Linked DNA regions of Homo sapiens: region 2 is linked to region 1. Evidence: fine-mapped expression QTL. A gene starts in region 1. The other region holds a variant in brackets. All regions are shown on one strand. Distances are from middle to middle.

The links.
Region 2: its variant is fine-mapped to the expression of SSR1 in fetal neocortex (Walker 2019, PIP 0.95).

The regions. Positions count from the first base shown.
Region 1 is chr6:7,308,786-7,324,928 of GRCh38, reverse strand. It overlaps SSR1 (signal sequence receptor subunit 1), which reads left to right and starts at 11,730. Exons shown (of 8, transcript NM_003144.5): 1 at 11,730-11,887; 2 at 14,900-15,012. The coding sequence starts at 11,809. RefSeq lists silencers at 223-332, 11,985-12,094, 12,225-12,274 and enhancers at 11,355-11,414, 11,425-11,494, 10,831-11,697, 11,698-12,566.
Region 2 is chr6:7,278,620-7,289,419 of GRCh38, reverse strand. It overlaps SSR1 (signal sequence receptor subunit 1), which reads left to right. Exons shown (of 8, transcript NM_003144.5): 8 at 1-8,277. Among named protein-coding and RNA genes, the nearest start is that of SSR1, 29 kb to the left of the region's middle. RefSeq lists a silencer at 7,478-7,678. The variant TG/G (reference allele first, on the strand shown) is at 3,741.

The DNA of each region.
Region 1 (16,143 bases):
ATCAGGGAAGAGACTGAAGATCAAGGAGAGAGAGGGATCATTGATGAAGCAAGATGTCAGAGGAGAAAAGAGAGACTAGGCTCCACAGCACAGCCTAGGGACAGGGACAGCTCTTCCTCTGAAATCAGGACAGGCATGTTCAGGGCAAACATAAGCCGTGGTGTAGTAAGTTGAGGGAGCTCATGGCCGGGAGTGTCACTCTCTTCTTGTAGTAGGGGGACGGAAGAGAGAAGTGAAAGTTGGAAATAGCCACAGCTTCTGCCTTCACAGAGTAAAGCTTTGGCTCTCACCACAGGAGATTGCATGGGGACGCAGTTTCCTCTCCCGTCTGTGGACTTACGCACTTTCCTCTTTTTTCCTCTGGTCTGTTTGGTCTCTTGTCCTCTTGACTCTGACCCATCGTATCTCCTTGAGGATTTGCTCCGGCAATCATTTGTATCTTCTCACACCTTCCTTTATAACTCTTCATTGAACCCTACCCTAGCCTTTAAAAAATATCCTTCCTGCAACCCTTTTCTTTTCTAAAGCTATCATGGTTCCTCTCTTTTCACTCCCCATGATAAACCTTCCAAAAATTGTTATTTGCAGTTTACAAGGCACTTTCACACACTATCCTAAGTAGGTTATCTGAACTCATAGTGTTTCTGATAGCTATTTTCCTGTATCTCCAGTCTTCATAACTCTGATTTTTGAAGGCTGTATAATATTTCATGGATATGTGTCATAATTCACTTAAATATATTTTATGGACAGGTTTTCAAATCCTTACTCCATAGTCAGTGTTCATTGCCTTCCATGCTCTGGGCCCAAACTTCTGTGCCTTTCCCCATATTGTTTCCTTTTTTGGGAATGCACTTTCCTTGCCCACTAAAAGCTCTCCTTTCTTCACATCCACCATGCAGTACCTCATATTTAAAACATTTGTACCCTTTGAGATCTAATTCAGATCTCACCCTCATCCTCATCTGAAATGCCTCTTTCGTCTGTTTTATCTGACTTTTTAATGGCACTTAGCACATTCTTCCCTAAATTATAATGCAGGAGAGATAGTACGGAATAGGAAAAAGAGCACTCGACAGGGAATCATAAGATTCAGATTCAAACCCTGGCTCCTCCATAACATCTGTTTTAGGAAACTAAGTTCATAGTCACTCTAGTTTAAGAAGAGTTACAGGACTGTGCTAATATTGTTTAAGGATATAAATGTTTTGTATATTATGTTCTATCTTTCAAAGATCGTTAACATTCGCCTATATAAATGCAACTCTTGGTAAGAGTGAGCCGCCTATATAATTCAAATCTAGCAGATCCAGTCTGAAAAAAACTGCAAAGGACTTTGGGAATTAGTATGAATTATGATTGCACCTTAGGGGTAAGGTGTGAAACTGGACAAAGATCATCCTGTATTTAGCAAGGTTAAATGTGCATGAAGAACAATTAGAATATATTTTTATAAAAGTCTAGTGGGCACAATATGGTAAAAATTCAACACTATAATACAGTGGAGGATTCTTATCATAAATGGGGCCAAGGGCCAAAGAAGGTGCTGGGAGAAGAGTTTTCAATTTTCAAAATTTCACAGCAAAGCTGCTCCACTGGGCATGTCTCCACTTGTTTGATGGGAGGATTTGATCCCCTAATGAAAGAGTGTTGGTAACTGGAAGAAGAGGCATAAAACCTATAGTACATAAATACACAAGTTATTACCACCAATAAATGTATTTTCTATACTCTTCCCTTTATTGAGGGATGATTTATGTGCTGTAAAATTCAACTATTTTAAGTATACAATTCAGTGATTTTTAGCAAATTTATATAGTCATGCAATAATCACCACAATCTAGTTTTACAATATTTCCATCACCCCATCCCCAAATTTCCTCCATCCTATTTGCAGTCCGTCACTGCTCCCACCCCATGTTTCCCAAGGATTCTGATCAATCTTCTTCCTGGGGAACATCCAAGAGAAGGGTTGGTAGGACAAACTGTGATCAACTGCTGTGTTTGAGCTTGAGGCATCGGGGCTGCTACCTGGGAAAGTTTTAGTATTCTGCTGTCATCTCCTATGAACTATCTAGTTTTTGCAGGGGCAAGCTGGCAAATTAAACTGGGATTTAACACAGACCACCACCCCTTTGAAGGTGACACACACCTCTACCATTCCCCACTGATGTGATTGGTTTGTATTTTTAATTTTTAATTTTGGCTGCGGAGGGGAGTAGTGGTGGTATTCAATACTAAATGGCAGTTGTGGTGGTGCTTCAGGGCTCTTTGTCATAGGAACCTGACTTCTGCTTCAGTTCTGGGATTGATAATTGGGTCAGGCCCAGTGGAGGAAGGGGAGCTGTCTAAATTCGTTCCTGCTGCTGTAACAAAATACCTGAGACTGGGTAACTTATAAAGAACAGAAATTTAGGACGGGCGCAGTGGCTCACACCTGTAATCCCAGCACTTTGGGAGGCCAAGGCAAGCAGATCACGAGGTCAAGAGATGGAGACCATCCTGGCCAACATGGTGAAACTCTGTCTCTACTAAAAATACAAAAATTAGCTGGGCGTGGTGGCGCACGCCTGTAGTCCCAGCTACTCGGGAGGCTGAGGCAGGAGAATCGCTTGAACCCGCGAGGCAGAGGTTGCAGTGAGCCGAGATTGAGCCACTGCATTCCAGCCTGGCTACAGAGTGAGACTCTGTCTCAAACAAACAAAAAAAGAACAGAAATTTATTTCTCACAGTCTCAGAGTTTAGAAATCTGAGATCGAGGTGCCAGTAGGTTCGGAGTCTGGTAAAGGCTGCTCTCTGCTTCCTTGTTGCTGTGGCCACCAGAGGTGATGGATGCTGTGTCCTCACATGGCAGAAAGAACGCAGGTCGGGTGCAGTGGCTTGTGCCTGTAATCCCAGCACTTCAAGAGGCTGAGGTGGGTGGATCACTTGAGGTCAGGAGTTCAAGACCAGCATGGCCAACATGGTGAAACCTCGTCTCTACTAAAAATACAACAATTAGCTGGCTATGGTGGCGCATGCCTGTAATTCCAGCTACTCAGGAGGCTGAGGCACAAGAATCACTTGAACCTGGGAGGCGGAGGTTGTGGTGAGCTGAGATCGTGCCACTGCACTCCAGCCTGGGTGACAAAGTGAGACTCCGTCTCAAAAACTAATAATAATAAAAAATCAAGACTGGCAAAAAGGGCCTAGCTAGTTCTCTCCAGAGCTTTTATATGGTTGCTGATCTCATTCATGAGGGCTCTGACTTCAAGACTTAATCACCTCCGAAAGGCTCCTCTTCTTATAATATTATCATGTGAATTTTAGGGGACACATTCAGACCACAGCAGTATCAAAACTTTTTATTGGGATGACTGCCCTCAGCCTCCTGGTTTTTCTTGATTTCTTTTTTTCTTTTTTTTCTTTTTTGAGATGGAGTCTCGCTCTGTCTCCAGGCTGGAGTGCAGTGGCACAATCTCAGCTCACTGCAACCTCCACCTCCTACATTCAAGCAATTCTCCTGCGTCAGCCTCCCGAGTAGCTGGGACTACAGGCACGTGCCACCACGCCTGGCTGATTTTTGTATTTTTAGTATAGACGGAGTTTCACCATGTTGGCCAGGATGGTCTCGATCTCCTGACCTCGTGATCCACCTGCCTTGGCCTCCCAAAGTGCTGAGATTACAGACGTGAGCCACTGCGCCCGGCCTCTTGATTTATTTAATTGTATAAACTAAACAATGCTGTTGTTGGGTGCCCATCTGTCTTGCCTCTAGGAAGGCGTTTTATCAGCTATTACCATAACTCTCTACAGGTTACTCCCCTTGCCCGTTCCCCAGCCCCTCTCCCCTATTCTGACCCTGCAGAATTGTGAGCAGTGTGCCCACATTGTTGCTGACCATTAGGTGATGCCGTCTGGCCTCCATTCCCATCCTTACTCCCACTGCTGTCAGTGCAGTTCCATTACGGCATCTCTTGCCCTGAGCCCAGACCTCCAGAGCACAGCTGACCAATGTTCTTCTCAGCCCCTCTCACCAGTGCATTTCTCATCGCTTTGGTAAATGGAGTGTCCTCTAAGGCCTCTTACAGAATATAAGCAGGTGAGTTTCCCAGCCTTATGTAGTACAGTTATCCCTCAGTATCCGAGGGGGACCAGTTCCAAGACTCCCAATGTATACCCAAATCTGCGGGTGCTGAAGTTCCTTAAAATGACATATTATTTGGCCAGGCGCAGTGGCTCACGCCTGTAATCCCAGCACTTTGGGAGGCCGAGACGGGTCGATCACAAGGTCGGGAGATCGAGACCATCCTGGCTAACACGGTGAAACCCCATCTCTACTAAAAATACAAAAAATGAGGCAGGCATGGTGGCGGGTGCCTGTAGTCCCAGCTACTCGGGAGGCTGAGGCAGGAGAATGGGGTGAACCCTGGAGGTGGAGCTTGCAGTGAGCCAAGATGGTGCCACTGCACTCCAGCCTGGGCGACAGAGCGAGACTCCATCTCAAAAAAAAAAATGACATACTATTTGCACATAACCTACACACACCCTTCCATATACTTTAAATCAGCTCTAGATTACTTATAATATCTAACATAGCATCAATGCTATGTAAACTGTTATACTTTTATTTGTATCTTTATTGTTCTGATTTTTATTTATTTTCCAATATTTTTGATCTGCAGTCAGTTGAATCCAAGAATACAGAACCTGTAGACACAGAGAGTAGACAGTGTGCCCATTCTAGCAGGCCTATATTTAGGTGCCAAGCAGAGAAGAAGGAGGGGTTGCTGAGGTGGAAGGAAAACCAGAAGCATGGATGTCGGTGAGCCTCGAGAAACAAGTGCTCAAGAATGAGAGGAGGAAAGGCTCACATGAGGGCCATTAGACCTAGCAAATTTTAGTGAAGTGTTAAAAATAAGAGCACAGTTGGAATAGACTGAGAAGAAAATGGAGGGGTAAAATACTGATGCTTTACTGTGTCAGGGAGCGGAGAAATTAGACTATTGCTGAAGGGGAACCAAGGCCGAGAGAGTTTTTTTTTAAAGACAGGGAATATTATATTTGTCTGTTGATGTTCAAATAATGAATTAGAGAAGTAGAAATGTATTGTGAGGGAGAAAAGAGGGGGCTATTTTCAGAATCTCATGTCCTTGAGCAGGAGATGGGATCTAAACCACAAATGGTGGTTGGCCTTTGATGGGCCTCTAAACATCGTTTTATTGTAACTGAAAGGACTGATGGCTCATACCTGTAATCCCAGCACTTTGGGAGGCCAAAGTGGGAGGATTGCTTGAGGCCAGGAGTTGGAGACCAGCCTGGACAACATAGCGAGACCCCATCTCTACAAAAAAAAAAATTTGCTGGGCATGGTGGTGTGCCTGTAGTCTTAGCTACTTGGGAGGCTGAGGCAGGAGGATTTACTTGAACCCAGGAGTTCAAGGTTACAATGAGCTATGACTGTTTCACTGCACTCCAGCCTGGGAGACACAGCCAGACCCTATCTCACAAAAAAAAAAAAAAAAAAAAAAAGGCAGAGCCTGAGCACAAGGATGCAAGTAAGTGGGGGGTCTTGTGGTGACTGATCAGGTAGTTATGACTTCATCTGTTCTTTTCTATGAAGTATGTGCTGGGGAAGGATTGGAGGCCTTCCTAAGTGAGGAGGTGGGCTGGAGAGCCAGCACTCCCTTTAAAGTCGTTCTTATTTCTTGTTTCCTTTCCCATAGTGCCCTCTTTTCATAAGGATTATAAAGGAGTTTTTTTCCTTGGAGGTATAGTTCACAAAAGCTAATTCTTTTTTTTTTTTTTTTTTTTTTGCCCTTGCTACATGAAAGAATGCTTAAGCGTTTGCTTATATATAATAAACATAATGTTTTTGGGGTTTTTTACTCAATGTTTTTTCATTTCTTATTAGGTTTACAATCAAACTTGGGTTCAAATTTATGGAGGAAAGATGTGACTTGTAACAACACTATACCTTCATTGATTCAACAAATACTTACTGAGTTCACACTGGTTGTCAGGCACCCTTCTATAACATTAAGACACAAACTCCCTGGCCACAAGATGTTCACAGGTGACCAACAGGAGACAGGCTGAACTATATTGTGAGAGGAGATAACCAGTACTATGAACAAGAGGAGAACAGAGGGAAATGGAGAATGTGGGGGCAGGAGGGTTGGAATTTTAAAGCAGAGGTCAAGGTAAGCCTCACTGAGAAGGTGACAGTTGAGCAAAGATTTAAAGGACATGAGCGGCTGGACGCAGTGTCTTACACCTGTAATCCCAGCACTTTGGGAGGCCGAGGGGAGGGGGGTGGATCACTTGAGGTTAGGAGTTCGAGACCAGCCTGACCAACATGGTGAAACCTCGTCTCTACTAAAAATACAAAAATTAACCGGGCGTGGTGATGGGTGCCTGTAATCCCAGCTACTCTGGAAGCTGAGGCAGGAGAATCGCTTGAACCCAGAAGGCAGAGGTTGCCATGAGCCGAGATTGTGCCACTGCACTCCAACCTGGGTGACAGAGCAGGACTCCATCTCAAAAAAATAAAGGACATGAGGGAGTTTCTTGGCCACACAGTTACTTGGTGGGGGTATAAAAGAACAAACACGAGTACTTAACAAACACATTTGTGAGTGATGTGGAGGGAAATCTTAAGTAATCAAAGGGAAAGAATCCTCTGCTTTTACACATTCTAAGGGAATGAAATGACAGATGTGGAGAATCAACTACGGATTTGTCTGAGGTCTGTGAAGGAGAGTCACCAGGATATGGAATATTCCCTGAAAAGAAATCCCTTCAAAGAGATTGGTACAGACATGGGGAGAGATTTGGAAAGACTTAAATAAATTAGTAAATGGAATTCATAATTCCATAAATTAAGGATTGGAACCAAGTAGGGCAGAGAGCTCTGGGTGGGCACCAAGGAAAAGCTGCTTATTACGGGAAGAATGTGGATCACAGTGATGCAGAATTGGTGAGCACACTGGTCAGGGTGAGCCCCTTACTTCCTTGATCACAGCTGTCATTTTTTAATACTAATTGGACAGTCACACAGGTCTTCTGTTTTCTGTTTACATGTTATTTTCCCTAAATTCATCACATCAGTAATATCTCGAGTAGGCACACTTTATTTTTCCTGTTGTACCAATAGTAGCTGGTTGTGTAAAATTCAAGTCCCAAATAAAATCCGATAGTAATCGATTGATGACATCATCATTGGAGTGGAAGTCACAGGTTAAGCCTAAACTAAATTATCCTTACATGTTCAGGCTACGTCTAAACATCTGAGAACCGGTGAGACAGACCTACTAGGAATCTCTTTACCATAAAGAATGAGACGTCGTCCCCTTCAGTAATCAGTCCTCTGAATGGGGAAAGCAAGCCAGTAAGACACGGTGGTGCCGTGATGGAGAGCAGGTGTGATTTTGAGTACAGCATGAAGTCTGTAACTTCACCATCTATTACAGTTCCCATCAATTGTTTTTGGTGTTAGGAGAGAGTAGCAAGTTAAACAGAAAGATGTATTTGTCAAAACACCTGTCAGACATCAACAAGCTCAGAGCAGGTCTCATTTGAAACTCATGAAAGGGTGCCTCAAAGTAGGGGAGGGAGATTATGCTGAGTCAGTGGAGAACTCTGTAAGGTACAGTCACCTCAAAGCAGGGACAGCGTGCTGGCAGTCCTTGCTCGCTCTGGGGGCCTCCTCGGCCTTGGCGCCCACTCCAGCAGCGCTTGAGGAGCCCTTCAGCCCGCCGCTGCACTGTGGGAGCCCCTTTCTGGGCTGGCCAAGGCCAGAAGCGGCTCCCTCAGCTTGCGGGGAGGTGTGGAGGGAGAGGCGCGGGCGGGAACCAGGGCTGCGCGCGGCGCTTGTGGGCCAGCGCGAGTTCCGGGTGGGCGTGGGCTTGGCGGGCCCCGCACTCGGAGCGGCCAGCGGGTCCGGGCAGTGAAGGGCTTAGCACCTGGGCCAGCAGCTGCTGTGCTCTATGTCTCGCTAGGCCTTACCTGCTCCGCCGTGGGGCAAGGCTCGGGACCTGCAGCCTACCATGCCTGAGCCTCCCCGACGAGCGCCACCCCCAGCTCCACAGCGCCCAGTCCCATCGACCACCCAAGGGCTGAGGAGTGCTGGCGCACCGCGCGGGACTCGCAGGCAGCTCCACCTGCAGCCCCGGTGTGGGATCCACTGGGTGAAACCAGCTGGGCTCCTGAATCTAGTGGAGATTTAGAGAATCTTTCTGCCTAGCTGAGGGATTATAAACACACCAATCAGCACTCTGTATCTAACTCAAGGTTTATAAACACACCAATCAGCACACTGTATCTAGCTCAGGGTTTGTGAATGCACCAATTGGCACTCTAATCTGGTGGGGATTTGGAGAATGTCTAACTAAGGGATTGTGAATGTACCAATCAGCACTGTGTCTAGCCCAGGGTTTGTGAACACACCAATTGACACTCTGTGTATAGCTAACCCAGTGGGGACATGGAGAACTTTGTGTCTAGCTCACCAATTGAAAACACACCAATCAGCTCTAAAATAAACCAACCAGCAGAATGTGAAGCCAAATAAACGGAAAAAAAAGCAGGCTGCCTGAATCAGTGGCAACCTGCTCAGGTCCCACTCCAGTGTCCAGAATTGGGGGCTCATTAGCCTCCCTGACTTAAAGAATGAAGCTACAGACCCTCACAGTGAGTACTACAGTTCTTAAAGGCAGTGTATCCGGAGTTTCTTCCTTCTGGTGGGCTTGTAATCTCACTAGCCCAAGAGTAAACCCACAGACCTCCACAGTGAGCGTTACAGCTCTTAAGGTGGCATATCTTGAGTTATTCATTCTTCCTGGCGGGTTCGTGATTTCCCTAGCTTCAGGAGCGAAGCTGCAGACCTTCATAATGAGTGTTATAACTCATAAAGGCAATATGAGCTTAAAGAGCAAAAGAACAGATATTTTCCCAGCATGGAAAGAAACTGGAGCCTGTTGTCGCTGCTAAGCTCAGGGCAGCCTGCTTTTATTCTTATCTGGCCCCACCCACACCCTGCTGATTGGTAGAGCCGAGTGGCCTGTTTTGACTGGGCACTGATTGGTGCGTTTACAATCCCTGAGCTAGACACAAAGGTTCTCCACGTCCCCACTAGATTAGCTAGATACAGAGCGTGGACGCAAAGGTTCTCCAAGGTCCCACCAGAGTAGCTAGATACAAAGTGTCGATTGGTGCATTCACAAAGCCTGAGCTAGACACAGGGTGCTGATTGGTGTGTTTACAATCCCTGAGCTAGACATAAAGGTTCTCCACGTCTCCACCAGACTCAGAAGCCCAGCTGGCTTCACCCCGTGGAACCCGTACTGGGGCTGCAGGTGGAGCTGTCTGCCAGTCCCATGCCTGTGCACCTGTACTGATCAGCCCTTGGGTGGTGGAAGGAACTGGGCACCGTGCAGCAGGGGGTGGCGCTGGTCGGGGAGATTCCGGCTGCACAGAAGCCCATGGGGTTGGGGGAGGCTCAGACATGGTGGGCTGCAGGTCCCGAGCCCTGCCCCGCGGGAAGGCAGCTAAGGCCCGGTGAGAAATCGAGCACAGCAGCTGCTGGCCCAGGTTCTAAGCCCCTCACTGCCCCCCGCCTGGCCCAGTTGGCCGCTCCCACTGCAGGGCCCGCCAAGCCCACGCCCACCCGGAACTCGCACTGGCTGGCAAGCACCGCGCGTAACCCCAGTTCCCGCCCGCCCACGCCTCTCTCCACACCTTCCCGGCAAGCTGAGGGAGCTGGCTCCGGCCTTGGCCAGCCCAGAAAGGGGCTCCCACAGTGCAGCGGTGGGCTGAAGAGCTCCTCAAGTGCCACCAAAGTGGGGGCCCAGGCAGAGGAGGCGCCGAGAGCGAGCGAGGGCTGAGTACTGCCAGCATGCTGTCACCTCTCAGAAGCTTTGTTTTTTGCAATAAATCTTGCTGCTGCTCACTGCCTTTATGAGCTGTAACACTCACCGCGAAGGTCTGCAGCTTCACTCCTAAAGCCACCGAGACTATGAACCCACCAGGAGGAATGGACACCTTAACAGCTGTAACACTCACTGCGATGGTCTAGTAGCTTCACTCCTGAGCCAGTGAGACCATGAACCCACCAGAAGGAAGAAACTCGGAACACATCCGAACATGATGAAGGAACAAACTCTGGACTTTAAGAACTGTAACACTCAGCACGAGGGTCTGCGGTTTCAGTCTTAAAGTCAGTGAGACCAAGAACCCTATTCCAGACACAGCTCTGACATAGAGTGGCAACACTGGTAGCGTGCACAGGAGCAGAGGCAGCAGCAAAGTGAGAGGAGGCCCTCCACTTATGCTGGGCGCCCTAGTAGCAGCAGCAACACAGCAGCGGTGCCACTGGTGGCCTGGCAGAGTGGAATTTGGTTGATTCAGCCCAGCACCATCAGGCTGTGACTTTAGCAGACTGTAGGTAGTGGTGGCAGTGGGTCCAAGCTGCATTTACAGCCCCCAGGACAAGGAGACCTGAAGCGGAAACAATGCAGGAGTAGAACAGCAAATGTCCTAGGTCAGTAGTGTATGGAATCTGGAACCAGATAGCCTTGTTCAAATCTTGCATCTGCCGTTTGCTAGCGTTTTGAAGCTTTGAGTAAATTACTAACCTCTCTGGGTCTGTTTTCTCCTCAGTAAATAATATCCAGCTCATAGAGAGGTTTAGAAAATTAAATGAAAAAGCACAGCTCTAAGGAGGTGATTGACAATAGTAAGCATATGATTTATTTCCTCATCTTTATGACATCTCACTCTGGTCCAGACCAAGATTACTTAATATTCAGATTAATTTCATGAACTGCTATATTACTCCAGCAACTCAAATCCAAAATAGATGAAAAGGAAACTAAAGAAAACTGGACAGCCATTGCTGCACCTATTGTATAGTTACAAATGCTGACTACATACCAAAACACTGTTTAGGTGACTTATAATTCTGGAATGTCACATACGAATTTAAGAATTGCTGGCCAGGCGCAGTGGCTCACACCTGTAATCCCAGCACTTTGAGAGACCCAGGCGGGTGGATCACCTGAGGTCAGGAGTTTGAGATTAGTCTGGCCAACATGGTGAAACCCCCGTCTCCAGTAAAAATACAAAAATTAGCCGGGCGTAGTGGTGCGCGCCTGTAGTCCCAGCTGCTTAGGAGGCTGAGGCGGGAGAATCGCTTGAACCCGGGAGGCGGAGGTTGCGGTGAACAGAGATGGTGCCACTGAACTCTGGCCTGGGCGACAGAGCAAGACTTCGTCTCAAAAATAATAATTTAAGAATTGTCATTACTTAACCATGGGAGAGGGTGTGGGCAGACAGGGGACAAAGATTTTCCACTGTGTATTTTCATGGTTTTTCCTTTGAACAATGTCCTCTCTTCCAACAAAATTTTTTGCTTTTAAGTGCCACATAAAGGCAGCTCATGTTCCTTACATCGCCGTTATCAAGAGGATCGTCATTCAAATAAAGTAACCACTGACAATGCTAATTAATTGGAAGTAAAGAACTGGGCGGAAAGAACGGCTAACCGCAAGCTGCCGGGTCGCAACTGCGGCGGAAGGCGGACTCTCGCGGGAGCCACAAAGAGGCAGCAGCCGGCCACGTGACTTCCCGGTGGCCTGCTCTCCCCACCTCTCCGCGCTGAGCAGCCACGTCGGCGGCGGTCCCTGGTCCAGGGAGGGGCGTGGCAAAGGCCCGTGCGCGGTACGTGTCCCGCCCCTCGCTGCCCGGAGCCCGGATGAAGAGTAACGCCATTACCGCCGGAGCCGCCGAGAGCCTTAGCCGACGGAAACTGGACACTGGACCGGCAGCGCCATGAGACTCCTCCCCCGCTTGCTGCTGCTTCTCTTACTCGTGTTCCCTGCCACTGTCTTGTTCCGAGGCGGCCCCAGAGGTGAGGCTGGGGGAGTGTGCGGAGGGGATGGCCAGGAAGGAGATGCCAGTGATGGCAAGTTTGAAGTTGGAGGCGGTGGCCGCTCCGGGTCCTGGGGTCCGCGTCCACCCCGCTGGCCTCTCTCCGCCCTCTCCCCAAGCCTAGGCTCGTAGCAGCAGGGGTCCCCGCGGGCGCTGGAGACCCCGCTGCGGCCTGCCCCTTGCACGCGGAGCGCGGGGCCGTGCCCGGGCGACCTTGCTTCGTGGCCGGCCGAGGGCTGGGCTTGCTCCTCTTGCCCTGGACCCTCGCCTGCAGGAGCGGCCAGAACTGGAGGGTCCTCGGCTGCAGGAGGAGGCGCTGGACACGGCTGCGCTCCGAGCGCGCCGCAGCCGGGCTGTTTCTTTTGGCCACCTCCGGCTCCGCTCCACCCCCAGCCCCTCGCGCTCAGGGCTGACGTGTCTTTAGCTTCCACGCCGGGAGTCCGTCTTCATTCATTTGCCAAAACCCTTGTTTTCTACACATCTAAGCCATCAGAGTGTCTTGTTCAATGGTCATCTGCCTTGTTCACGCCCTGCTTGACCCGTATGTGTTACTAGGAGGCTTGATTTCAGAAAAACTACCCCATCGTCACCCCCGTTATCCGCCCCTGCTGCCAAGCAGACTGAAGAATCCCTGTGGGATGTCTCCCTTCTGCCTTCTTCCTCTTCTTGTCTTTCCATGGAACAATTTTTTGTTTGTGGAAACATCGTATTGTGCTGAAAAAATGTGGCCTACTTCGAGTGTTTTTAATACATAGATTTATTCTTTCAACAATTAACCCAGCAATTAAGTGTGAAAATAACTTAGCAGAATATAAAAATATGGCAACTTGACTTCCTGCACAGGTTTTGTCGTGAACTTCGACTTTCTAATTTGTAAAGTGAAATAATTAGTCTGACTAAGCATCCCTTTCATTCTGTAAGTTTAAGCAAGCTGTGTGTCTTAACGGTAGTGACAGGTATTCACGAGTTGTTTTGCGATGAAAAGTGAAGTGACTGGCTTCTGTTTAATGGCTAGAAAACCAAGTGGGAGAATTAAACAACTGTTAATGAGTTAATCTGCAGGTTTAACAAGATTTTTTACTTTAGGAGTCGTTTGCTGGTACTCTTTAAGCTTTTTAAAAGAAAACTTGACAAATGTAGTTTTAGTTTTAGAACTATTTATAACTATTTTCAAGTTATAAAAACTTTCAAGAAGCATGAATTCATTATCTAAACTGAATTAATATCTTGTAAACATTTTTTGTGAGAAACGGTTTTTGTGTTTGGTTTTTCCAGTTGAATGAAGACTGTTAGACTTCATGGGGACAAAATTGTTATTGGTTAACATTAAAATAATAAAATTGTTTAATATTTATGAAAGGCCTTTATATTCCAAAGTGCTCAAATTTAACCACGACTTTAAATTACTATATCAGACATGGTATTTTTCTTACTGGTTTTTGAAAAGGACTTGTAAGTTATGAATGCACTATTTTAGGCTTTGTTCAGCAGGCAGTGAAATCTCTTTAGTTCATAATGCATGGTTCAGTGTTCTTTAATATTTTGCAATAAATCTTAGCAGCCAGTGAGAACTTAAAGACATGGAAAAGACTGCAAATGCATGGTCCTTAACTGTTTCTCCTGGGTGAAAACACGCTTCCCTTCCCATGTTTTTTATCCACAGAATTGCCACATCATCATTTTTTCTGAGAGATGTTGGAAGACACTAGAACTTTGAAATTCTTTTTATGGTCTTGCCTGAAATAGATATAATGTGACTTACTTAGAGTACTATTGTCTATAAAACTGTGATTCACCTTTTTTTTGCATTATACCTGTACTTTGTAACACTAAGTTTGAGAAAAAATATCTTAAAACATGTTTGAAGCCACATGCAAAAATAATTGGATTCTTTCTTTGCTATCAAACCTGAAGCTACCAATACAGTTTTTACTAAACAATGTTTTTCATGCAAGCCAGTTTTTACCATGGATATGATTACAGATATTTGTTCCTTGGCTTACAAACTATCCAGTTCTAAGAGTTTCAGCTGTAGTCACCTCTGATAACAGTGTTTCCTACATAGAACATTAGAACTTAAGAATGCTTTATTTTTTTATTTTTATTTTTTTGAGACGGTGTCTTGCTGTGTCGCCCAGGCTGGAGTGCAGTGGTACAATCTTGGCTCACTGCAACTTCTGCCTCCTGGGTTCAAGCGATTCTCCTGCCTCAGCCTCTGGAGTAGCTGGAACCACAGGTGTGTGCCACCACACCCAGCTAATTTTTGCATTTTCAGTAGAGGCGGGGTTTCTCTGTATTGGCCAGGCTGGTCTTGAACTCCTGGCCTCAAGTAATTCACCCTCCTCAGCCTTCTAAAGTGCTGGGATTACAGGCGTGAGCCACCGCGCCGGCCAAGAATGCTGTTTTCTTTTAAACGTGGGGGTTGTTTAGTTTGCTTTGTATGGTTAATGACAGGGATTACATTTAGAAGTTTCTTATCTTTGCAAAAAATTATTTTCCTTAATTTGCTTAACAAAGTTGCTTGAAGTTCTTTGTGCTTCAAGGCATCTTTAGTTTGTGCCATTCATTTTTCCATCTGTTGGGCACTTTTTGAAGTTAAACCACATTTCCCATTAAAAATAACATGGAAGGCAGGGAACAGTGGTTCACGCCTCTAGTCCTAGCTACCCAGGAAGCTGAGGTGGAAGGATCACTTGGGCCCAGGAGTTTGAGGCTGCAGTGAGCTATGACTGCACAACTGTACTCCCAACCTAGGCATCAGAGCAAGACCCTGACTCTTAAAAAAAAAAAAAAAAAATTGATATGCAGTTGTTAAGACTACTAGTAAACTAAAATATAAATATTCTTCGGTGCATTGTAATTGGCATCATTCAGGTGAACTGGGAGATTCTGTTAGTCCAAGGGAAGTTTTTTTTGCCTATACCTGATGTTAAAAAAAGAAATTAGTATTTCAGAGTAAAGGGTAACTGCTTTTTCTGTATTTTATCATTAGGCTTGTTAGCAGTGGCACAAGATCTTACAGAGGATGAAGAAACAGTAGAAGATTCCATAATTGAGGATGAAGATGATGAAGCCGAGGTAGAAGAAGATGAACCCACAGATTTGGTTAGTGTTACATACTATTTAATATATGTAAAATGTATGTAATTGTATTCATCTGTTCTCATGCTGCTAATAAAGACATACCCAAGACTGGGTAATTTATAAAGGAAAAAGGTTTCATTGACCCACAGTTCAGCATGACTGGGGAGGCCTCAGGAAACTTACCATCATGGCAGAAATTGAAGCAAACATGTCCTTCTTCACAAGGTGACAGCAAGGAGAAGTGCAGAGCAAAGGGTGGGGAAAGCCCCTTATAAAAACCATCAGATCTTGTGAGAACTCACTTTCACGAGAACAGCATGGAGGTAACCGTCCCCGTGATTCATTTACCTCCCACCAGGTTCCTCCCACGATGTGCAGATTATGGGAACTACACTTCAAGATGAGATTTGGTTGGGGACACAGCAAAACCGTTATCAATAGTACATCTAGAATTTATCCTTACTTATTTATTTTTAGAGACAGAGACTTGCTCTGTTCCCCAGGCTGGAGTGCAGTGGCACGAGCATAGCTCACTGCAGCCTCGAACTCCTGGGCTCAAGTGATCCTCTTGCCTCAGCCTCCTGAGTAGCTAGGACTACCGTCATGCCCCAACAAGCCCGGCTAATTTTTGTAATTTTTTTTTGTAGAGACAGGGTCTTGCTATGTTGCCCAGGCTAGTCTAAAACTTCTGGGCTCAAGTGATGATCCTCATGCCTCGGACTCTGAAGGCACTGGGATTATGGGCATGAGCCACCACACCTGGCCTAGAGCTTATCCTTATACAAAAATTTAAAATCCCAACTTTTAGAGGTTTGTTAATGTGATCAAAGTGAATTGAAGTTGGGAGAATAGGCACCAGTCATTGAGAACAGAGCATAAGTATTTTCTGGAACAGGGAAGGAGACATGAAATAGTTAACAATTCAGGATCGTGGTGACATGAGTCTAGAAGGGTAACAACATAGTAGAAATAGCACTGGACCTCATGGTTTCATAGATTTGGAATACCTGCTGCTTCCTTTTCTGACTTATCTCTGTGGGTCTCAGTTTCTTTTTCGCTTGCTTGCTTTTACTCTGTTTTTATTCTTTTTGCTTGCTTGTTGTATTTCTGAATCCTTATGTGCCAGGCACTGTTCTTGGTGCTGGGTGGGCA
Region 2 (10,800 bases), 33 kb after region 1:
ATTGATGGCACAAATCAGCATTTTGTTGTTGTTACTGTATTACAATTAGTATTCTAAAGGCAGAAGCAGAAGTAGCTGCTTTTTAGCAATAGAATTGTTTCAGTATTTTGCTGCTGTTTAATGCGCATCTTCAGAAAACTTCCCAGTGGCTTCAAGGAATTTGGGGATCTCTCTGGCAACAAATTGTGAAACATGAAATTTCTGCTGACTTTAATATATGAAACCTAATCCTACCCCCTTTTTTAACAAAAAGAAACTAGTACATTTGTGAAAATTGTGTTGTGTTGTCCATTGTTGCTCTAGTTCTGACCCAGAGGTAGCTCTGGAGTGATTTTAGACCTACTCACTCAGTTGTGTGTAGGTTTTTTTGTTTTGTTTTGAGAGAGAATTTTTCTCTCCTTAATAGAAGCATCCTTTTTAAAGAGAAGTTGCCTTGGTCCACACACTAAGCAGAAAACCAAGTTATCAGGACAGAGATATTTCCCAGTTACTCCTAATCAATGAAGAAAGTGAGTTGGATATTTTTAAAGCAGTTAACTAATTTTTTCTTACCTAATCTTTTGGGAGTTTTGCTTGTTGATATAACCTTTTTAGTTAACCTGAAAGATTCCAAAAATTGTTCTTAAGTGCTTGAGACTGGAACCAAAATTAAATTGTACTTCATAAAATCCTCTTATAGAGTTACTCTTGCCCTAGATTGTAAATTAAGTTTGGCATTATTGTCAGACTGGATGGAGGGTGAAGTAAAATAGTATGAACAATTAAGAGGCTCTCCCCCTCTTGTCTTTAAGCCATATTCTCCTACATGTATTTTATAAGAAAATGTTAAGTCAAATTTTAGTGGCTCTTTAATTCCTGACCTCTTCATTCTCCTTTTCAGTATAACCTCCCCTATGCTCATGCCCACACAGACAAAAAAACAAAACGAAATACACACAGAAAAAAGTCTTTCCAAACTGTTTAAGTATTTAAACATCTGAGCCAAAGCAGATAGAAGTTATTGTATAATTGTTAATCACTTTGCAAATAGGGGCTATCAAATTACCTATATTGGCATTGCTGGATTATAAACTCTATATCTGTAATATAAAGTGTTTGAGTTTTTAATTGGGCTGTTATGATCAGTAGTTGATTTTGAGAAAGCTCTATGAGCTCTAAGTAACTGCATGGTTTTTTGTTTAATGTAATATAGGAGACCCTTCACATTCCCAAGGAATATATTCCAAAACATTTTTGTGAATATCTAAGTTTGTGAAACTACTAGGGCATGATACAGTAAGGTGTAATTACAGAATTTACGAAATGTAAATGGCCTCTACAGAGTTTTATGGAATACCTGGTACTAACGTAGGCAGCTGCAAAACCACACTGAGTTACAGCTGTCAGCCCTCCTCATTCCTAAATAACTTGCCTTACATATCAGCCCTCCCACTTCTGAAGTTCAAATTAGTGCCTCGGAAATGTAGAATTTATTATTTGTCATTTTTTTTTTTTTAGCATAGATTGAGAACAGTTGAACTCTTAAATCCTCAGATGCCAGGGGTCTGCTCTAGCATCAGTAAGTATTTAGCAGAAACTAACTCCGTAATGAATGGAATTCAATTCCACACATGGTTTGTTCAAGCACACTTAATAAGTAGCCTATTTTTTAAATGTCTTTTTAAAATGTAAATATTTGGATGAAGTTTTTCTTTGTTTTGATATATTCATTTGCTACACCAACTATGTTTTCAGAATTCATCTTTTGAACAACTTGGTTTCAGAATATGTAAAATGACTTTAAGGATCTTGTGTATCAAACCTATCCCCGGATGTGTGAGAATAATGTGTTCATAAAGCATGGATCTCGCTTTGGTTGTATAGCTTCCTCATTTACTTCATGGTCTTACATAGCTGGTGACTTTCAGGGCTAATCTGCCCTCTAAAGCATTGTCCCAGGAGAGGAAAAGGAAATGGGACCTCAGAAGTAGAAGCCTCAGGGAAGGAGTAAAGTAGAAATCAGAAGAAAAGAAGCTTCACTTGATAGTAATAAGGTTTTTAACTTCAAGTACCTTCAGAAAATGTGATTTTGATAAGAGGAAAGGGCAAATTTAGACCTTAAAAAATATGGAAGAACTACTGCCTTAAAAGTGCATTTGTGGCACATCAGCCTAGAACTGTATCATGGCTGTGCTGGGGAGAAGTAAATGGTGGTAATGTAACATTGCCACCTTTACTTAATGATGTGTTATTTTCGAGGTACAGTAGATCAATATAGTAATAGGCGAGCCTCATATATAGCATTCATCTTGTACAATGATATCCATACCCTTGATATGAAGGAAAATTGACTTGGTTTGTGCATTTGAATACTGAAATAATTTTTTAAAACTCAGTGACACATACCATCTCTTGCCAAGACTAGACCCTGTATTTTAGTTCCTAAATTAGATGTTTAAATTTAAAAACATTTTCAGATGTACTTAAGTACTTCCATAGTACTTTTTTTTTTTTTTTTTTTTTTGCCCCCTGAGACGGAGTCTCTGTGTCACCCAGGCTGGAGTGCAGTGGTGCGATCTCGGCTCACTGCAACTTCTGCCTCTTGGGTTCAAGCAGTTCTCCCTGTCTCAGCCTCCTGAGTAGCTTGGATTACAGGCGCCCGTCACCGCACCTGCCTAATTTTTGCATTTTTAGTAGAGACGGGGTTTCGTCATTTGGCCAGGCTGGTCTTGAACTCCTGACCACAGGTGATACGCCTGCCTTGGCCTCCCAAAGTGTGCTGGGATTACAGGCGTGAGCCACTGTGCCCGGCCCACTGTTCACTTTTTGAATGGCATCATTTTATAGCTGTAGAACTAAAATCAATGTTTGCCCCAATTTTCTTAAGTAAAACTCTACTTTGAGCTCTTACCTCCAACTTAGTAAAAAGCAGCTTCACACACAAACAAGATTCTTACTGGTGGAATGTTAGGTTTCGTTGTTAAGTTAATCTGTCTATAAGCTCATCCTTAGAGGATATTTGAGGAGGAAGAACACCTTGCAGCTGACTTGCAAACATCTAAATAATTTATTTCGGGTGCTTATGAATGTTACTAATGGATTTTGTATGAATTTTTATCCCTTTTCATTTATACAAAAACCTGGGCTTTTATGTTAATTATATCATCTGAGGTTCTAAGGTTTTTTTTTTAGATTTTGAAATTTAGGGATAATAGCTCTTAGGTTTGGGTACCACTTTGCTGCAGTTTAAGAAAGGGGGAAGGGAACTCATTTATTAAACATCAATCACGTGCTGTGTTCTGTTTGTTTTCTAGTCATCATATCACACACCTTTACGACAGCTCACTGAAGGAAGGTGATACTGTTCCCATTTTGTAGATGGAATAGACAAAACCTGAATTTAAGTAGCTTGCTCAAGGTTCCATATTGAATATGGAAAGTTCAAATCATCTCAGTAATGAATATACCATATATACTTGCTGTATTGTATCTATGATAATTCAGTTACCCACAATACCCTTTTAAATTTCTGTTAATGACATACCTTTAAATGTCTCCTTGATGAACAGAATCATGGTCTTTAAAAACATTTTCATGGGTTGATTGCATTTTCAAGCTCTAAAGGATTGAAAGATAAATCTTCACGTTAAAGGTAAGAGTGAAGTATCTGCTCTTGGGTTACAGAACCAGATAGTACTAGAACTAAGATTACAGGGTAAAGCTGCTTTTATCTTTTTTCTTTTTCTTTTTCTTTTTTTTTT[TG/G]ACATGGGGTCTCACTGTATTGCCCAGGCTGGAATGCAGTGGCATGATCTCAGCTCACGGCAGCCTCTGCCTCTTGGGCTCAAGCGATTCTCCTGCTTCAGCTTTCCAAGTATTTGGGACCACAGGCGCACACCACAGGCCTGGCTAATGTTTTTGTTTTGTTTTTGGTAGAGACGGGGTTTCACCATGTTGCCAGGCTGGTCTCGAACTCCTGAGCTCAAGTGATTCACCCACCTTGGCCTCACAAAGTGTCAGGCTTACAGGCGTGAGCCACTGCGCCCGGCTCACAGGGTAAGGCTTCTGTCTGGTGTGTTGTATTACGGATTTTGCTTAATAGGCACAGTGAGGCATTAAAAAGAAAATTCAGTATGCCTGTAGAAAGGATAATCCTTGTTTAAAGTCTCCAAATTGCAGTCAAAGATGTTTTGACTGTGCCTTTTTTTGTTCCCCTGCTGTCCCTTATGTAGACTTCTGTCAGTACCCATGGCAGCCTGTCATCTTGTTGACATCTCCTTCTGGACTGTGAGCTCTGTATCTGGCTTGTTTTTCATCCCCAGCTTCTAGTTCACAATTAGGTAGAACCCTATTACTCTTTGAAGAAGGAACAAGAAAATGTGGGCCAGTTTTCATTTGCCATTCTTCCATGTGAGTTAGTATGGTTCGTAAGTATTCCTGGTGATACGCTAGTATTGGCAATTCTGTGAGGTTGAACAAAGGGGTGGTATGGTGTGCTAGCGTGGGAATTAGGAGACCTCTGGGTCTTGACAGTGCCCTGGCCACTAAGCAAAGGCAGTTCATCCTTGGAGTCTCAATGTGCTTTTTTGTTAATTGAGATATGCTTGAAGTATCAGCCCTAAATAGTCTGATTCTGTGACCTACAAACCCTTACTTAATTCAGTGTTACTATAAATGATTCTTCCCTTAAACCTACTTTTTACTTAGCAAAAGAGAAAAAAAAAAAAAGGAAACGCTCATGTCAGGCTGCCTGGGTTTGAACCCCAGATCCCCTCTTAGTTGGAGGCAAGTTGTATGATGCTTCAGCTTTTGGTTCCTGCCTCCTAAGGTTGTTAGGAGTTACTGTGTGTAGCTGCTTAGAACATTGCCTGGGTCTCAGTAAGCCGCTTAAGTGACTGCTCTCATTTTCGCTGTAAAGCACCATACTGTAATAACATCCCATGAAGCATGGGGCGGGGAAGAGTATATGGTACCTTATGGACTTTGATGTGGTGGGGTAGTAGGTAAATTCTGAATATGTAAGCTACATAGTATTCTTTTTGTAACTAAAGGATAAAAGTTTTAAGATGGGCATGTAATATGGCTAGCACTGGATTTTAATGATGAGCCAGAGTAATAAGGCTGGCAAGGGGAGTTTTTGTTTTGTAATAAATCTCTTACACCTGCACATCCAGTTCTTTTTAAAAACACGTTTGAAGAGGCTCCATATTTCTCAGTGAAGCTGTTGGGGTTCATGTTATTTTTGAAAATCATCTTGCAATTTATTTCAGCATCAGACTGAACCACCCAAAGAAAATTAGTCTATTTCTGAACAGTTTTTTCAGAAACCATATTGGTCTGATCACCCAACATTTATAGAAATAGGCGCTTAAGGCCTAGAGGCATTTCAGAAAGGAGAATGAGAAATACTGTGGTCAAGAGTAGTGTTCAGATGGAGAACATCAAGCATCTGCTCTGCCCTTCCACACACATCCTCATTTCATCTTCACAACTGCCCTAGGTAACCTTGTTATCTGTAATGAAACAGCCTCAAGGAGCACAGAGGCACTCACTCCTCACGTTTGGTCTGTTGCCATTTCCGGCTTGGTTGGAATAGGGTAGGAGCCTTTTGGCAGGGAGCACATTCTCAGTAATGCAGAGTGCACTCACCTGGGTTCTAGCTTCAACACTTAGGATTTGCTTGATATTTTGTATTCTCTGAGGCACTGCCTGTATTTGTTTCTGCTATCACAGTCCAGAGTCAAGCTTCATTTATAAAGACTGGGCAGGGCATGGTGGCTCACTCCTGTAATTCCAGCACTTTGGGAGGCTGAGGTGGGTGGATCACTTTAGGTCAGGAGTTCAAGACCAGCCTGGCCAACATGGTGAAACCCCATCTCTACTAAAAAATACAAAAAGGCCGGGCACGGTGGCTCACACCTGTAATCCCAACACTTTGGGAGGCCAAGGTGGGCAGAACACCTGAGGTCAGGAGTTCAAGACCATCCTGGCGAACATAGTGAAACCTCGCCTCTACTAAAAATACAAAAATTAGCCAGGTGTGGTGGTGCATGCCTGTAATCCCAGCTACTTGGGAGGCTGAGGCAGGAGAATTGCTTAAACCTGGGAGGTGGAGATTGTGGTGAGCTGAGATCGTGCCACTGCACTCCAGCCTGGGAGATAGAACGAGACTCCATCTCAAAAAAGAACAAAAACAATTAGCCGAGCGAGGTGGTGCACGCCTGTAATCCCAGCTACTCATGAGGCTGAGGCAGGAGAATCACTTGAACCCAGGAGGAGGAGGTTGTAGTGAGTCAAGGTTGCACCACTGCACTCCAGCCTGGGTGACAGAGTGAGACTGTCTCAAAAAATAAGTACATAAATAATAAGTAAAAGCTACTAACAATTAAAAAATAAATAAATAAAGACAAGACTGTCTGGAAAATGGCTCTCCTAAAAGGACCAGTTGCCATCATCCACAGTGGAAGATTCAAAGCAGTTGGTCCTTGGTACGTATGAGAAGCGGATTTCATTCCCTTGAATTCTACAGAGCAGTTTATTAGAGTGAATGCATTTTAAGGCCTTGCATTTGATATGTCATCCAGTTCATAATCAAGTTGCCTTTTTCTGGCTAAAACATAATGATTATGTATTTTTCTCATTTGGTCCTACAAGCTGCTGGCCCTTTGTCCCTCCACTGTGGGAATCAGATCTAGAGGAGGCTGAGCCTGCAGACACAGCAGTGGCCAAAAGGTCACTCTAAGTGTTTTGTCTTGACTCCTTACTTGAAGTCCACCCAGCTAGCACACATCTGGTTTATACTGAAGCCCCCTGCCTAGAAATACTCATTTCAGGAACCACCAGTAAGCATCTGTGACCACACAGGCTTTTTGACTGATGGCTTCCCGGATCTGGTTTCAAGGGATAACCCCGTCTGTGTGCATCTATGGTCTTCTCTCTACAGCGAGGACTTTGCAGTGCTGCTTGTGGTCCACACAAGGGGCTCAGAGCTGAGTCTGAACTGCTTCATGGTCACCAGCTCCTGTCCCTTCCAGTCTTGAGAGGCTTTTTTCTCCAGATGGAACCTTTCCTTCCCGCCGTTTTCTCGGTCTCTGGCTGTTTTTCTCTTGTGCCCGTCTAATTGGACACCTCCTGGCTTCCATCTCTGTGGTTCTCCTGCCTCACTTCCTGTTCTGTTGTTTTTCCGTTTTGTCAAAATATCTCCTATGTTCTTGGCTTCCTTTTCGTCGCCAGGTTTTCAGCTTTCCTTTAGCTCTTCTTCTAATATGGCTTCTGCCCACAAAAGCCTGCTCTGTCAGGATCTCATGGTTCTCCACTTGCCAGAACCTTCTTCAGCCTCAGTTCCTCGGCCTCAACTTGTACGTTTAACCCATTGACCACCACCCCCCAAATTCACCTTCATTTCTTTGACCCTGCTCCTCACTCCTTTTCTGTTGAGGAATCTGTTGACTAACTCCAGGCTCACTCAGGCTCACCGTCCTGCTCTCTGCACCAGCCTTTCCAGAGCGTGCCAGTTCTCATGGCTTCATCTGTTAACTGTTGATCACTTCAGTCCTGATTTTTAGACCTAAATGGTTTCCTTAACGCCATTCTAACTGCCTGTGACTCATTTTCACTTACAGTGTTTATTGTAACGCCAAACCAACAAATCACAGGTGCTTGCTTCTCTCCATAAATCTCCCCAGTCTAACTTTTTGTCATTCAACATGACTCGTTTATCCAACCTGAAATCGCATATAGCCCCAAGTATGGTGTTTTGTACACAGGTATTTAATAAGTGACTTCCAGTTTTGGCTCTGCTATGAATAAAAAGAGATTTCAGTTCTCTTCACTTTGAAATCTAACAACTCAGAGAACATTGAAGAAATTGGAATTTAGTTGGGATGAAATACTTGTGGTTTAAAATATTTCTGTTCATATTTTCTAATTTGTTGCCGGAGGTCTTGGGTTTTCTATTTGAGTGCTTGCAAACTCAATGTGATTTCTGTCAGCATATCTTAGGTTTGTTTGTTATGAAACTTATGCAGTGTGAGGTTCTATCTGAAAATGTTATTTAGCTATCTTCTGGGACTATTTAATGAAAGTGGGGTCATGAATCCTTAAAATTCTTGTGCAGCTTTGAGAAACATTTCTGTTATTTGGGTATCAGTTTGTAAGTGTGGTAAAGCCAAGATGGAAACGAGCACTTTGCTTTCTTGGTTGTTGTTACTGGTCTAACCTCCTGCTTGAACTAGTCTGCTGTCCTGTCAAATGCATCTTTTTATTTACATGTCCCTTAAATTAAAGCTGATCATGAAAGTATTTGTGTGCAACATGAAATGTTTTCTAAAGTACCAGTGCATATTCCTGCTTGGTCTCAAGACGCACGAGGAATCCAAAATAGAAGCAAAAAAAGAAAAGAAAAAAAATCACAATTTTGATCGGAATGTCCTCCTGGAAATTATTTAAAAGTTTGGCCGGGCACGGTGGCTCACGCCTGTAATCCCAGCACTTTGGGAGGCTGAGGTGGATGGATCACAAGGTCAGGAGTTCAAGACTACCTTGACCAATATGGTGAAACCTCGTCTCTACTAAAAATACAAAAATTAGCTGGGCGTGGTGGCACGCGCCTGTAATCCCAGCTACTCATGAGGCTGAGGCAGGAGAATCACTTGAACCCGGGAGGCAGAGGTTGCAGTAAGCTGAGATCACGCCACTGCACTTCAGCCTGGGTGCTTCCGTCTCAAAAAAAAAAAAGTTCACACATTTTTAGACATTTCAGTGATGTTTTAGAATAAAGGTGATTTAAGATTGGTTTTACAGGCACTCTTGGGCTGTCAGCTAGTTGGCTTTTCAGATGATGATCATAAAGACACTCCCCCTCACGCAGGTATATGAGTAAGTAAGGTCTACCCCATCCACACTCCCATACTGACTTTCCATTCCCAATAATTGCACAGACTGCATACTCTGATCGCTTATTAAACATTTCTAAGGAAGCCGAGATGGATCTTTGATGTAATTTTCTCATCTGTATACCCAGCCAGTAAGTCAGTAGCACCTAAGATTTCTTTCCCTTCAAGATTGTATTCTAAGCAGTAGAATTAAAGTGTTCTTCATAGAAAAAGTAACTTTTAATTAGAGGCTGTGCAAACTCTGGAGAATCAGTCTTTGTTACCAGATAATAATGTTTTTAGCTTTTTCTGCTGAGAGGAAAAAATGCTTTGAAGAATAAAAAATACTAGAGCATAACAAGCTTGGGGAGTTAGGAAAAAATATATTAGGGCAGTAAGAACCAGCATTACGTCTTCTCTGCAATGCTTGAAACATTCAGTATTAAACTTTGGATTAATCCAAAGTCTGAAGAGAAATACACCAAAATGCTAAAGCCGTTTTTGGTTAGGATAGTGGACTTTTTTTTTCTTCTTCAGAATGTTTGTAATGAGCCTATATTTTATAATGGAAGCAATAAATGCAAATGTGAAATTTATCTGAGCCTCCTACAATGAGTATAATAAATCCAGTGGTTGTGGATAGCTTATTTGTGGCCCCAAAAGAAACGGAGCCACTTTTTAAAACTTGGATGCATTGTCACTACATAGTGAAAGAAAATCAAGATATTCTTTTTTTTTTTTTTTTAAACGGTGTCTCACTCTGTTGCGCAGCTGGAGTGCAATGGCGCAATCTTGGCTCACTGCAACCTCCGCCTCCCGGGTTCAAGCGATTATTCTGCCTCAGCTTCCTTAGTAGCTGGTATTACAGGAATGTGCCACCACGCCCAGCTAATTTTTGTATTTTTAATAGAGACGGGGTTTCACCATGTTGGTCAGGCTGGTTTTGAACTCCCAACCTCAGATGATCCACCTGCCTAGGCCTCCCAAAGTGCTGGGATTACAGGTGTGAGCCACCGCGCCCAGCCCAAGATAAGAGTCTTTTTTTGTTTTTGTTTTTTTGACACAGAGTCTTGCTCTGTCATCCAGGCTGGAGTGCAGTGGCGTGATCTCGGTTCACTGCAAGCTCCGCCTCCCGGGTTCACCCCATTCTCCTGTCTCAGCCTCCCGAGTAGCTGGGACTACAGGTGCCCGCCACCACACCCGCCTAATTTTTTGTATTTTTAGTAGAGACGGGGTTTCACCGTGTTAGCCAGGATGGTCTCGATCTCCTGACCTCGTGATCCACCCACCTTGGCCCCCCAAAGTGCTGGGATTACAGGCGTGAGCCACCGCACCCGGCCCCAAGATAGATTCTTAATAGAAAACCCTTGAAAGTATTTCTCCTTTTCAGGGACTCAGCCTTTCTCTTTGCTGTTTGTAAAAACATGAGCTCCTCTCTGCTGCCGAGTTGGTGCCAGGCCAGTGCTCAGTGCAGCCACTCCTGCCCCACCCCCTTGCCTCTCGGGCTTTATGCCCACAAGAGTCCAAGCCACTCTATCAGATCCTGACTCTTCTCTTCTGGAAACTCTCCTCTGGCTTCCACTGGCATCTAGGTGAGCACAAGTGCTCCACCACTGCCTGCAGGGCTCTCCAGTATCTCGCCCTCCCTGCCTTGCCCCTTCCTGTGCTGCCCTCCAGGCTTCCTGGCCAGCCACCTCCTCATCTTCTACCCTGCCAGGCTTGTCCAGGATCAGGGCCTTGGCAGTAATCCCCTCTGCCCAGGTCTCAGCCCCCATCTTCCCTGCTCTTAGTCTTCCTGAAAACTCCCCTCATGGAAGGCCCCACACACCCTGCTCTGTTCTCATTATCTTCACCACTATCAGAAGTTACCTTGGGCTGGCCGCAGTGGCTCACACCTGTAATCCCAGCACTTTGGGAGGCTGAGGTGGGCAGATCACTTGAGGTCAGGAGT